4 linked regions of the Homo sapiens genome follow. The protein of the gene in region 4 purifies or fractionates together with the protein of the main gene of each other region. This does not show direct contact. Each region holds a gene or a part of one and is shown on either strand. Other genes may lie near its edges.

Region 1 (3,500 bases), on a different chromosome or scaffold from region 4:
TAGTTCCTCTAACTTCTCTCGATCCAAGAGGAAGTCTAAACTGGATGCCTGCACTAGGTCCGTTCCTACTCTCAGCTATCTACACAATTTGGTCAAATAATAAAAAACTGAAGAAGTATTTTCTCGTTTCTTCAAATGTAGAGAAAAATTATGTTAGAGTAGTTTGGGATATTTCACAGGATGGTGATGGTAATTCTCATACCAAATGACATCAATTAATATTTAAGCAGAAAAACATTAAAAGCATATTTATGCATCCTTTGTTCAAAATGTGTCCAACAGATTTGGTGCCATGCCCCAAACCACGAAGTGACTACAGACCTAACTTGAAATATCCTAGTAGATCCCAGTAAGAAGTTTTCACCTTCTCTGTTGACAGTTCTTGTCAAGGAAGTGATGAGATAGAAAAATCAAGCACTGGAGTCAGATGGACCTCAGTTCAAATCCTGGCTCTACCAATGAGTGGTTGTGGGGGGGAGCTCTGGACAGGTGATGCTGTCCTTGAGACTTACCATATGACCACGTGCACAGAAGAAATTCGTATGTACAAGCATGCAAAACTCAAAGCCCCATATGATCAATTAAAAATTAAGACTAGGAATGCAGCCACATCAAATAACTGTTGGTGTGGGCTAAGGGTTTCCTTTAAGTAAAGGAGCAACAGGATTCTCCTATCCAAATACTTCGAATATTTTTCTAGTAAGTGAGCTTTATGCAGTCAGGCCAGCTAAACAGCATTATCTTTTAAAATCAAGGAACTGAGAGCAATTTAAAAAAGTAATCTTTGGCCAATAAAAATGATTTACTATCTTCATCTAAAAAGCTTTAATTTCTCAACATCTGGCAGAAAAACGCTGACATTTTCTTTCTCTCAACAAAAGAAAGTTAGCTTAAAATAATTGCTTAAACTTACCTCATTAATACTTCATGGAAATTTCACTCTAATTTACTTAAAAATTACTCTTCCTGACAGGGCGCAGTGGCTCACGCCTGTAATCCCAGCATTCTGGGAGGCCAAGGTGGGCAGATCGTGAGGTCAGGAGATCAAGACCATCCTGGCTAACACGGTGAAACCCTGTCTCTGCTAAAAATACAAAAAATTAGACGGGTGTGGTGGCGGGCGCCTGTAGTCCCAGCTACTTGGGAGGCTGAGGCAGGAGAATGGTGTGAACCCGGGAGGCGGGGCTTGCAGTGAGCTGAGATGGTGCCACTGCACTGCAGCCTGGGCAACAGAGCAAGACTCCGTCTCAAAAATAAGAAATAAAAATAAAATAAAAATTACTCTTCCAAGTTGTTGATAAACATCCTTTTCTTTATTCTTCTTCAAGATTTATTTTCTTGGCCTTCCCAAGCTGCTTTCGCAGACTTTCTGCCTGGCTCTTTCAAATCCACAGCAGCCCCTCTCTTTATATGCCCACCTTCCTTTCTTAAACACGCACACATTCTCCAAGCAGTGCCTGACAGCCTTCTTTGCATCAAGGAGCACTTACAAATGATCCAGAGACCGAGGAGAATACTGTCTAGGCACACCTGCTGGAGACTCCTCCCCGAAACTCTCCAACATCCCTCTAGCCAGATACAATCAACATGTGAAGATAATGAAGACCAAGAAAAAAGCCTCCTAGGGCATAGGATACAGCTGATCCTCCTCCCTACATTCAGCGATTGGCCTGCTCTGCTCTCGCTCCTCCGACAGCTTCACCTGCTCCTCTTCATGTTCCTGTGCCTGGGTCCAGGGCTCATCCTGTTGTGGTCGTGGTGGCGGCTTCAGCCCTTAGAGCTTCCCTTGGCTCTCTCCTCAGGACAGCTAAGAGCACCAGTGTGGAGTCACCCTTCAGTTCAAATGCAGATCAGTCCTTTCTTGTTTCATGACCTTTCTTTAGCCCTCACTTTCTTTTGTAATTCTAAAATAATAATTGGTTTTTTGTTGTTGTTTGTTTGTTTTTTTGAGACGGAGTCTCGCTCTGTCACCCAAGCTGGAGTGCCATAGCGTGATCTTGGCCCACTGCAACCTCCACCTCCCGGGTTCAAGCGATTCTCCTGCCTCAACCTCCTGAGTAGTTGGGATTACAGGTGCCCACCACCACACCCAGCTAATTTTTGTATTTTTAGTAGAGATGGGGTTTCGCCATGTTGGTCAGGCTGGTCTTGAACTCCTGACTTCAGGTGATCCGCCCACCTCAGCCTCCCAAAGTGCTGGGATTACGCCCAGCCAATTCCAAAATAATAATTTTTTTAAAAAAATTAGGCTGGGCCAGGCATGGTGGCTCAGGCCTGTAATCCTGCAACTTTGGGAGGCTGAGGCAGGAGGAATCCTTGAGCCCAGGAGTTCGAGACCAGCCAGGGCAATATAGGGAGCCCGTCTCTTTAAAAAAAAAAAAAAAAAAATAGGCCAGGTGGGTGGCTCATGCCTGTAATCCTAGCACTTTGGGAGGCCAAGGCAGGAGGATTGCTTGAAGCCAGGAGTTCCAGGTTGCAGTGACTGATAATCATGTCACTGCACTACAGCCTGGGTGGCAAAGTGAGACTCTGTCTTTAAAACAAAAATAAACAAATAAATGATATACAAGTATGTAGCGCATGCATTCTCAACAGGGGTGGTGGTGTCCCAAAGAGGTGAAAAGTGTTTCTTGTGGTGGTTTCTACCAATGGTGAAAAAAATCTTAAGACAATACAAAAACTTGGGACCCTCCAAAGCTCAACTCTACCCAACAAAATCTTATTCCTTTGTACTAAATCTAGCAAGGGATAGGAGGTAACTAGGAACAATGTCTAAAACAACTCTTGGAGAAGGTGATCATGAAAACAAGGTTAAGAAACACTGAGATAACACTAAAATGTACAAGTCTCTCCCCCCACAAATCACACTCCATTCCCAGAGGGAAGGGCCTATCCTTCAGCCAATTATTCTTCCAGCCCACAGGCACACATATCACATATCACTATTAATCATATATCCAAGAGCTCTGGACTAAGACCACCTTCAGAAACACAACCCCGAGGGCCTATGTGTCCTAACAGTGAAGGCAGACACTAGAGCAGATACAAGCCTACCAGCTGCTGGGAAACAGCCATGCCCCTCCCTGGCTCTGAAATTTGAGAAGCTTCCCCCTAAGAACCCTCAGAAAGGGAGAAAGAGTAAAGGGAGACCTAGCTTCAAAAAGCACCTCCACAGCTGACCCAAAAGCTCGATTCCTGCGCTGTTGAATGGTACTTCTCGGTGTACGCCGAGAGCATTCAGCTCAAGTACCATTTGAAAAAAAGATGGGGGCACATCTGCCATGAGGTAGAGTGATGACATTCATGTACAAGAACTGTCTGATGCCCCCATTACACCCAGGACATTCCAGAATCTACTGAAGAATGAAGACTGCTTGTTTTTCACATGGATTCCTTCTCACAATGTATTATCATCACAGAGCTTGTTCAAACCTGGAAGCAGACAATTCCTGGTTATTGTCCCCAGTGATTACAACAGTCTCCCTAATTTCAGCTGTGGC
Region 2 (4,037 bases), on a different chromosome or scaffold from region 4:
ATTTGTTCTTTGTTGCTCTCATCGCCACCTGCATGTTATTTTTTCATGTATTGTTTTATCACCTCCCTCAACCAGAAAAATAAGACCAATCAGAGCCAAGACTGTATTTCTTCACTGTTCTACCCATGGTGCCAAAAGCAGTGCCTGGAGCATAAAGTATGAATTAAAAAATTTGTTGAAGGGCTGGACTCTTCCCTTGTTCCTAGGTGAAGTAACAAATACCCAAGGGCTTATACAAATGTAGAGCCGGTATCCTAGAAGAAAATAGCTCTGAAAACTGTACTTATAATTTGTACTAACAGAAATGTTATCACTAAGTAAGATAATGTGAGAAATGGGGGAAAAAATCATAAGAAAACAAGAGCAGATGAAAAGACAAAAGGCTTAGATGAAAAGGAGCAATGGTCAGAAAGGATTTTGGATAAGGAAACGAAAATGATGGCAGAATTAAGGCATCCTCTGGGGACAGTGGAAAACAGAATTAACAAGGCAGAAATTGATAGTGGTTTCTTCATTCATTTATTCAACCACTGCATATTGAGGGCTGCCTCTGCATACACATCAGGCAGAGAACAAGGCAAAAGAACTGTATCTTCATAAACATGCAGTGAGATGAACAAGCCCACGTGCTGCTTATAGGAGTCGAAGCCAGCAGTGCCTTTCTGGAAACCACTTTGGCAATATATACTATGAGTGTCTTAAAATGCATAATCTCTGAGCAACTATTTCATGTCTATGAAAATAATATAAAGAAAGAGATGATCATAGAGTATCACAGAATTTACATATTTATATATAACATGCACATATTAAAATGTTTGATCTTAGAAACAAGTGAAAAATACACAGTAATGGAATTATCAACTAAATATTACCAAGGCCAAACAATGGAGCACTATGCAACCATGAAAAAAGATAAAAATAATTTTAAGAACATGGAAAAATTCACAATCTATACTTATAAATAATTATATGCAGAATGAATTCAAACACAGAGTTCTTGTCTTTGGAATTTGGGATTCAGAATTATATTCTTTATGCTTTGGGGCATTTGACAAGTTATCCTCAAGGAACACATTATTACTTTAATAATAATCAGAATAAGTACTAAATAAAATTTTTATCTCCCACATTAGCATTTCTTACATATTTTGAACCTATTCCAATACAGTTCTCAGTTCCTAGAATCCTCCATTCCACTTACATTATTATAAAAGATTCCAGTAAGTTTAAATTTTTGCTCAAAGCATGCTAAAGTTTTGTATCCTTGCATTCCCGCTCCAGATTTTTTAAACAAGAGACTACATTTTTTGCTTTATAGATATTCTAAGCTCACTGTTGTCTTCTCCTTTTATCATGGGGTTAGTAAAAGATTTTATTCAAATGATCCAACAATTCATCACTCTCACCATACAAATATATTGTATCCAAAAACATAACTTTATCAAAAATAAACTTCCTTATTAAAATGTTTCAGTAAACACATCCAGACTGTGGCATAGTTTCGAAGGTATACACCATGTCAAAATTTGTCAAAGTATACACTTTAAATATATGCAGTTTATTACATCAATTATACCTTAGTAAAGCTACTGGATAAAACATAACATCAAAAAAGGCCACATACTGAAATATGGCTAAAAGGCCTGAGGTCAGACACATACACCTAAGAAAAAGACGACCCACTCGTTAAATGCATCAGCAAGTTTATTTACAAATGCAATTGAACAGAAAGGCTCACCAGTTTCTGAAGAAGACTTCTAGTATACAAACCATGGTTATTTTTCATTAATGAAAATAAGCAGCTTTCTATTGGGAATTACTTAGCAACATTTCTGGTAAAGAAAATAGAGCTCCCTTCATCAAGCAAATAAATGGTACATTAACTGCATTTTTAAAAATCAGAATAATAGGTAGAAGGAAGGATACAGAAAGCACATTTGGGGATAGATTTTAATGAAATTTTCCATATGGTTCTGCATTAATTTAGAATACATTACAATAAACAGAGCAAATGCAATTATGTATTTATATTAACTATTTCAAATAATGTTTAAGAACCTTTTTTTAAAAAACAATAAAATACCCTCTTCAAAACACCACTAACTAGAAAGTCAAACTAGATCATTATCTGCCTCAAAAATATTCGTAGGTTCTTATTTTTTCCCTTGTGCTCTCAAGATGCTGAATTCAACAGGTAAATACTGCACTTTTCCCCACACACAATTACCTTATAAATAAACAACAAAAATACTGGTTCTACCAAGACTACAATGCTTCTATGTAATCTAAAGAGGCAAAAAAAGTTATTCTTTTTTTTAAAAAAAAAGCAAAAAAGACATACAACACATATTTATAGATCTACATGAGCAGCAACCACCTCTTCTTCTATCTGCAACAGTGCTTTCGTATGGAGGCTTACATCACATGGCGGTTGGCCGTCCAGCTGATCGGGCAAGGAGAAAAGAAAGAAAAGTGCTTAGATTCAGAAACGTGAATATTGCCATCTGGGATACATAGCAGTCATCACTCAGAAAGTGGCCCAATGAGGTAGAAAGAGTAACCTGTCACTCACTCTTAGGATAAAGCTAGGCAAGTCTCAGTGTCTCGTCTCTGGAATTCTTTATTTGTAAAAATGGAGTAAAAATGAACTGCTCACAATAGAAATAAATTACACTCAACTCTCTATTATTTGTTTTGGAGGAGAGAAAAGGCATGGGCAATTTTACAATGGTGATTCCAGAAATCATTTCTATTTGGCTTTGGAATTTGATGAGAGAGAGAAAAACACACACACATACACACACCCCCCACCAGTACATGCCCAGCCTTGACTTTCTCCAACCTCAGTGTCAGCATCCAGGAAAGGACTGGACAGCTGCAGCAGGAAGGCTCAGAACCCACCGACAGATAAAAGAGAGTTGACTGGGCTTAAACCATTTCCAAAGCACTCTTCACATAGGGGCCATATAAATACCTCAGAGTTCAAAAGCAAATGATTTTGCTGATACCACTTGTAACACCCTTTCACAATAAGGAAGAAACACATGTTACCAGCATCAAGGTTTAAAATATAAAACAGCAGTAATACTTGTCTTGCTGTAGCTATACACAACACACAACCTAGTTATGCTAGCCTACCTTTTATAACACACAAACACATGCTTAGATGCAAAGTAGCATTTGAAGTTTTTTGAAAAACTCATTTTTTCCAAAAATGACACTGAAACACCATAGTTAATACTTTCCTTTTAAAATTATATATTGACATATATTAACATAAAGCATAAACTGACTTATTTTGTATTACATGGAACAATATTTTTTAAAGTTGGTCATATTCTAAATCACATAATCAAAGCCCATTGTTAAATAATAGAAGTTGATGAGGGACCAATCTTTAGTCAAGAAACAAATCCTACATAGAAGATTCATTTAAGTGTTTTGGTTTGTTTGTATTCTTGAGTCATTAAAGGTCTCTGCGGACTCTGGGCAGATAACACAAGACACCATCCTGACTTTTGGACACTGTTCCTCTCCATTCCTTGGCCCCACAACCCACTCCTGTGTAGCTGGAACCCTGAGCAGTGACCCATTCACTATACACACTCTTTGAAGGGAACACACTACAATTCTTGAAACCTGGAATCCTATGGCAGTGAACTTGGAGGGGAGCTCGCTGCAGGTTCAGGGAAATGCATGGGAACCCGTGGCCTCCTTAAAAGGCAAGAAATTTTCTCTCTGATTTGCTCTCTTACATTTGAATCTGAGATAGCAGTCGTTGCAGTACAGTTGGTGGTTTCTGATCCTGACTTCAGCTCCTGAGGAAGAGCCTCCGAGGTCACACTCACAGGCAACACACTGGGGAACAAAAAAAAAAGAACATCTACAATCAGTCAGCTCAAGAAAGCTTGGGGCACTCCTGGGGGTGGGGGGGAAATGAGCAGAATGCTACTTCTAAGCTCTTAGATACATTTCAGCAAAGAAAAAAAAAGGCCGAAAGATGATTAGTAGATTCAAATCAAGACCGCCAGATA
Region 3 (3,500 bases), on a different chromosome or scaffold from region 4:
GTAACTTCATTTCTACCAAAACCACATGCTTGCTAAAAGGATAAGCGGCCTTCCAAGATAGAAGCATTCCTCAGAAATTCAAGGGCCTTCTTGTTTGTTATATATGCTTCTAATCATAATCAGTACATCCTAGTCTGTTATTCCTTGTACTTCTCTGCATTCTGAGCCTATGAAATTGAGTACAAAGATCTACTTCCATCCCCTATTTATTCTCCATAAACTGGGAGATAATTTTAAATTCTTTTTATAAAATATCCTTTATAGTTACTCTCAAAATGTTTGATTATTACAGTTGTAAAACTTAAAAGCTGAGATGTCATTTATTGTTAAAAATTGAATATAATCGTGAATGACTTAAAAAAAAAACGTATTCCTGGCCAGGCACAGTGGCTCACGCCTGTAATCCCAACACTTTAGGAGGCAGAGGTGGGTGGATCACTTGAGGTCAGAAGTTCGAGACTAGCCTGGCCAACATGGTGAAACCCCATCTCTACCAAAAATACAAAAATGAGCTGGGCGTGGTGGCGTGAGCCTGTAATCCCAGCTGAGGTCCAAGAATCGCTTGAACCCCAGAGGCACAACTTGCAGTGAACCGAGATCACACCACTGCACGCACTCCAGCCTGGGCCACAGAGCAAGACTCTGTCTCAATAAAAACAAACAAACAAAAAAAGATTTAAAAAAATGTATTCCTGATACCCAAAGACAATACTATGACCCTCATTACTTTAGGTAAATTAGCTTCCCATTTAAGATGGTTTGAGGAGTAAAGAAATCTGTTAACTAGGACTTTTTTCCCTAATAACACTATTTAATACATTAAGCCTAACAATTTATTATTACTATTTCCAATAGAATCTTTTTTATCTTATAAAAAAGATAAATTAGGATAATAATAAAATAGAAAAGAATAAAAGAAGTGTTTCTTTTCGAGACATCATACTGACTATCCCATAACAATATTCAGTACAGTAGTTTCCAGTTTCATGCCATGACACTAATGCAAACTTCTGAAGTCTGAAATATTTTAAATACAGCTGAAGGGCAAAATTGTCCCTTCAAAGTTTCGTAAGTATTAAAATAGTGCTTTGGTCACAATGGATGAGAAATAAGATATAATGAATGAGTGGAATACCCCAAATAAAAGGTATTATGCTTACAACGATAACCCCTTCAAGATGAAGATCATACTTCCCTCTTTCAACAAACTGTGTAGTGAATTTAACCTTGTTGATACTTCTTCTTTTAAACAATCTTTTGTATTTTAATTACTAATCACAGTTTTCACTTTGGGAATTACACAAAGCCATTTCAGGGAGCCAAGACTGCCCTAAATCTACTATTACTAATTAAACATCTTATTTATCCAACCAGAATGAAAATTCTAGAGAATTTCCAAATTCAACATGTAAGAATTATTTTCAACCACCACCAAAGGACGGCATACAACGTGACACTTCAATTTATATAAAAACAACTAAGTATGCAATAAAAATTTTAAACAGGCTGCCGTGATGTAAGTCATCACAATATCCCACACACCACACTTTAGATAAAATACTGTCAACATCTGTATGTGATGGAGGAGCCTAGAGCACACCCAAGTCAGATTCAAATTCAAGTCTGGATCATTCTTCAATGTGATGTTAAACAAGCCACTTAACCTCTGCATTTGTTTCCTCTCTGAGGAATGACGTGACATCTAAATTCCATACTCAACATGATTGTTACAATTCATAAACTATATAATGCTACAAAAAATAAGGCGTTATGCAGTTTTATTCTTTTTTTTTTTTTTTTTTTTTTTTGTAGAGATGGGATCTCCCTACGTTGCCCAGGCTGCTCTCATACTCCCGGACTCAAGCAATCCTCCCACCTTGGCGTCCCAAAATGCTGCGATTACAGGCAAGAGCCACTGTGCTCTAACCATTATGCGTATTTTTATATACTTATACATTTATGGCTAAATCATGCCAAGCCAAACAGGGCCAAATAAATAATGGCACTAAAATAATTTTAAGTTATTTATCATAGTGATTTTATGCTTCCACTGAAGACTATCGAAAATAAGTTTGGTTGAACTATGAAGTTTAAACTATTACTCACTCGCCAACGGATAGTAAGTTCTGCTTCTCATCTTTTTTTATTCGTGGGCGCCCTGGTTTCATCTTCAAAGGTGAAGTTGGAGTCTTCTGAGCAGCAGGTTGAATGAAATGTGCAAAAAGTTCTGTCTGCTTTAATAAATACTCGAATCTATTTGCCCGGTCAGTTTGCTGAAAAAAAAAAATTTAAGATACATTTTATCAGAGTATCAATTAAAACTTCAGAAATCAAAGTTTCAGCATGCCTCCATACAATGAACTCAGCAAAAAAAAAAAGAGAACTACAGATAAATGCAACATGGATGAGTTTCAAAAGCACTATGCAAAGTGAAAGAAGCCAAACACAAAAGACTACATGCTGTATGATTCCACTTAAATGAAATGCTAACTAGTGATAGAAAGCAGATCAGAAGTGGCAAGGAGGTGGGAGCAAGAACTGATTAGAAAGGAGCAGGAGCAAACTTTGGGGATGATGGAACTACTCTGCATCATGATTGTGATGGTATTTAAAGAAATATTTGCTAAAACTCATTGAATTACAAACTTAAAATTATTTTATGTCAATTATACTTCAATACAGTTGATCGGAACAATTTTTAAAATATTAAACACTGTGCAATACAAGTGAATTTACTCAGAAGCTGGAAAAAATGCAGTGCTCATTCATTAGTTAGGCTGTGACAAATTTTAAAACGGTATTGGGATTGATACTATTCCTTCCTTTCGTATCTGCCATCTGCCCCTTTGAATGTTCCCTATTATAATACCGAGAGAATGGAAAAAATTTACTTGGGCAAAAAAAACCTTAAGAGCCTCGAAGACAAATTTTCATAAAAATAATGAAATTGGGAGCCATTAGGCAGCCTTTATACAAAAACAATAATAGTTTGATGAAACAAAGGAGAAGCAAGACAAGAAAAGCTCAATAAACAGGGAAACCAACTACTCAACATCTCTGTCTATAAATGTTTAAAATGTCAGTTTGGGAATAAATTACAAAAAGACATTTTACCTAGCAAACACAAGAAGTATCCAAATGCCATAATGTTGTAACAACTACGTATTTTTAAAAGGAACATAATCATTTTTTAAGGTCACACCAATGTAAAAACTGAAGCCCAATTTGCTATTAGGAAGGCACATGGTTATAGTGTTTCATTGGGTCACAAATGGCAGTCATAGCAGCAAATGAATCTGCACAGTAACAAGACTGTGAACATGCTAGAACCCCAGTAATGTCCTACAGATGACAAGCCTCTGTTATTTATGTTTTCCAAGATTACAGACTGTTTTTAAAGTGCTGAACAAGATACATATGTGAATGCATATTTTACATAATTACATTTCTTAATTTATAGATAATGAAACAAAAGCCAAGAGCACGCATCTACAAGATGT
Region 4 (3,500 bases):
GTTTTGTTTTGTTTCATTTCGTGTTTAGTTTGTGGATCACTGGATTAGAAGGACATTAAACTGTGGAAGTAGCTCACATTCAATCTTTTCAATTACACACACATCTTAGGCAATGCCAAATAATTCTTTTAGTTTGTACCTGTTGGTTGAAAAAGTATATAAATGATTAAAACTTCTGTGAATTCAGTCATTTTTAAAATTGTATTAAAGCAACATATATAGATAAGTGAAAAATAATTATATATTTCACATAAATAATACCCAGTGCTAGATGGAAGTGTATAATGGATGTCAGGACTTCTTTAAATAAATGCAAGCCCCAACCCTCCCCCAGGAGTTCTCTGCCCTTAAGTCAGAAACCACCAGAATAGAGGCTGGGAACTGATGGGCGCAGGGGTTCAAGATTCTGACATGAAAGTAATTCTTGGCTGGGTGCGGTGGCTCACGCCTGTAATCCCAGCACTTTGGGATGCCAAGGTGGGTGAATCACGAGGTCAGGAGATCGAGACCATCCTGGCTAACACAGTGAAACCCTGTCTCTACTAAAAATACAAAAAATTAGCTGGCCGTGGTGGTGGGCGCCTGTAGTCCCAGCTACTCAGGAGGCTGAGGCAGGAGAATGGCGTGAACCTGGGAGGCGGAGCTTGCAGGGAGCGGAGATCGCACCAGTGCACTCCAGCCTGGGCGACAGAGTGAGACTCCGTCTCAAAAAAAAAAAAAAGAAAAGAAAAGAAAGAAAAAGAAATTCTTGAAGCTACGAAATACTTGGGAGTGGATGTGGGGAGAAAATCCTGCCACACAGGACCAGGGGACTTTCTAGATATGTAGGATCGGGAGGCATTGAAGAGCCAGCAGGGAAGTAGTTGAAGGATAAGGAGGAAAGCCAGGATCCTGCAGTGTCACCAAGCCAGGGAAGCCTCAGGGCGACATCGACAGGATCAAATGGTCAGAGCTCTTGGGCAAAAGGGACGAGCTGGGGTGTGGGGGCCAAAAAAAAGGCTGTTGGATTTAGGCACTGAAAAATAGCCATGCAAGGGTTCCGCCAGAGTGGTGAGGGGAGAAGCTAGAATGCAAGTGGTTATGTCATGGCAAGGAAGTAGATCCTGCAGCTTGGAGAAGTTCACAGTCAAGGAAAAGCTTCTAAAGAAGGCAAAGAGTACCAGAGAGCAGGAAGCTGCATGGCAGTTTTTTAACATGCACCCTGCAGTGAGAAACATGGAAAAGCCAGCTTAAAAAGCCATAGCAAGTTGGGCAGGAACTAAGTAATTAAAATCTGTTTTGCTTTCCACTCTTCCGAGGGTGGCAGTCCAGTTCCTTTCAGTGGACAATGGAAAATCCTCAGCTCTTGCAGGTCTTTCCAGAGTTAGGAATCAAAATTTGCAGAGATGACCTGGGGCTACTACAAGTACATATTTGGGGGCCAGGACTGCCTGTAATTTTAGAAAGCAGAGATAGAAAGTCCTTAGGGATGGTGGCTGCAGGATGCAGGAGTGACTTCGGGTGCCTTGTGGTCCACATCATGGCTCAACCTGTGTTCTCTTGCTCCAGCTCATCGAGGGCGCCTCTGCAGAGCAGAAACACAGCCTTGGCATCACCAGCATGGACTATTATTACTACCTGAGCCTCTCGGGCTCATACAAGGTTGATGACATTGACGACAGGCGGGAGTTTCAGGAAACTCTGGTAAGTGCTGGCGCAGGGCCAGGCAGGATCTGCTCTCCCAACTGGCCATTTCCTGTGGCCAAAAGGGCAGTGAAGGTTAATAAAGCAAAGAGCTGCATGAAATGTCCGCCTCTTTCTCTGTGAGCACTCTGTATGCTCATACATGTTTCAGTATCCTTAAACAGCCATGTGCCAGTTGCCTGAGGACCACTTAATGATTTGAGATGGGTAAAAAGAAATGAATTCATCATTATCACCCTGCAGGAGCTCTGATAAATAGGCAAAAATGATTCATACGTTGAGCATACCTGTTTGCTGATGGCCTACTCTATTCGTGAGCTATTTCCTTAGAAAAGCTAAGCAAACCGCACGTCTATGGACTGAATAGGTTTAGACATTTTGGAACGTCTTTAGTCTTTTCTCTTATTTCTTTTCTGGTTTTGAAGACTCTCTTCCCCTCTGTATTGTTTAGGGCAGAGGACCCTTTTTCTGTGCCATGCCCTTCACATTGCATGTATGTTATGGTCCAAGCTGTGAAACTAGGTAGATTATGGAGGGGTTCCATCCTGGGGGCAATAATGTAGAACTTTCTGGAGGTAGGCTGAACACCCACTTGGCCTCAAAGGCCTTCATTGCCACCCACTGCCCTTTGAGTCTGTTTCAAGCTGGGGACTATTCCTCAACCCAGATCCAGAACTGAGCAGTAGACTCTGAATGAGCAGCGTGGGTTCAGTACATTTGTGGTTGAAAGGGACAGAAAGTTCAAACAGACTGTGTCCTGGGTGCCAGGAAACAAAATGGTATCAACAGGTCACATGGCCTCAAAGCAGCTGCGGGGAAAAGTGCCAATAAGGAGTCTGCACACTGGTCCTAGAGTGTAGTTTTCTTAGGAGATGTTTCTCTTAAGATTTAGACATTTTAGCGGTATTTATTGCATTTAAGGGACCTCAGAAACTGGACTTTTAAATGATGCTTTTATTGGATTTCCTGGAGATTTTTCATTAAGATCCTTTTGCAAGTACAATATATTCTTATCCCTCCTGATGAAGGGAAAGATCTCGAGTCCACTTTGAGTAGGTGGAAAGGTCAGCAGCGACCTTCGAGGGGAAGCTGGCAACAAGAACACATCAAAGGATGAAGACAGGACTTGGAGACTTTGTGTACAACTACCACTCTTCCGAGTCTCTTTCCTCCTGGAGTATTCTCTTATTCCTGGAGGATGGCATGCTATGCTTAGAGACAGAAGTGCCCTTCCAGCATGACTTTGAGACGTGAGAAGAATGTGTGCATTGGGCAGTGACCATGTTGTACAAGAACGTCCTGCTGTCATCACAAGCTAAGCCACATGTGACTGCACAACCCAATCTTATGTTTTGGCTTTTTTTTTTTTTTTTCTTTGTAACTCGTCTGTACTTGTCACATCCTTATTTAGAGCAGCTGCTGTGCCTTGGCTTCTTCCTAAGGTGCTTTTAAAGCTGGTGACCAGCTTCTCTGGATAGTTTCTCTTTTCTCTTCCAGCACGCCATGAATGTGATTGGGATCTTTGCAGAAGAGCAAACGCTGGTGTTGCAGATAGTGGCGGGTATTCTCCACCTGGGAAACATCAGCTTCAAAGAAGTTGGCAACTACGCGGCTGTGGAGAGTGAAGAGTGTGCGTAGCCCTGGCATGTGGCCATTGAATGAGGGGTGGCTAGCTCTGATTAGAAGTAACCTAGCACTTTCCTTTGCTTAGATCTCAAATGGGAATATTGGGAAGAAGTGATAAATCTACATGTCCTCTGTGGCAAACAGAATGGCTTCACGAGAGACCAGACCTCTTCTATGCACCTGTCCCTGTC

The links. Proteins that work in one complex are often made in the same cells at the same time.
Region 1: the proteins of MYO1E (region 4) and CNN3 fractionate together in Homo sapiens (co-fractionation; one large-scale study listed by BioGRID). This does not show direct contact.
Region 2: the proteins of MYO1E (region 4) and LMO7 fractionate together in Homo sapiens (co-fractionation; one large-scale study listed by BioGRID). This does not show direct contact.
Region 3: the proteins of MYO1E (region 4) and SMARCA5 purify together in Homo sapiens (affinity purification with mass spectrometry; one large-scale study listed by BioGRID and IntAct). This does not show direct contact.

Annotation. Positions count from the first base shown.
Region 1 is NC_000001.11:94,906,611-94,910,110, forward strand, and holds part of CNN3 (calponin-3), read right to left. Parts: intron 1-3,500. UniProt on the Homo sapiens protein: Thin filament-associated protein that is implicated in the regulation and modulation of smooth muscle contraction. It is capable of binding to actin, calmodulin and tropomyosin. The interaction of calponin with actin inhibits the actomyosin Mg-ATPase activity.
Region 2 is NC_000013.11:75,856,330-75,860,366, reverse strand, and holds the end of LMO7 (LIM domain only protein 7), read right to left. Parts: intron 3,862-4,037; coding exon 3,759-3,861; intron 2,447-3,758; coding exon 2,424-2,446; coding exon of another isoform or gene 2,354-2,423; 3' UTR 501-2,353; downstream 1-500.
Region 3 is NC_000004.12:143,520,202-143,523,701, reverse strand, and holds part of SMARCA5 (SWI/SNF-related matrix-associated actin-dependent regulator of chromatin subfamily A member 5), read right to left. Parts: intron 2,274-3,500; coding exon 2,107-2,273; intron 1-2,106. UniProt on the Homo sapiens protein: ATPase that possesses intrinsic ATP-dependent nucleosome-remodeling activity.
Region 4 is NC_000015.10:59,222,872-59,226,371, reverse strand, and holds part of MYO1E (unconventional myosin-Ie), read left to right. Parts: intron 1-1,548; coding exon 1,549-1,683; intron 1,684-3,180; coding exon 3,181-3,313; intron 3,314-3,500. UniProt on the Homo sapiens protein: Actin-based motor molecule with ATPase activity. Unconventional myosins serve in intracellular movements. Their highly divergent tails bind to membranous compartments, which are then moved relative to actin filaments.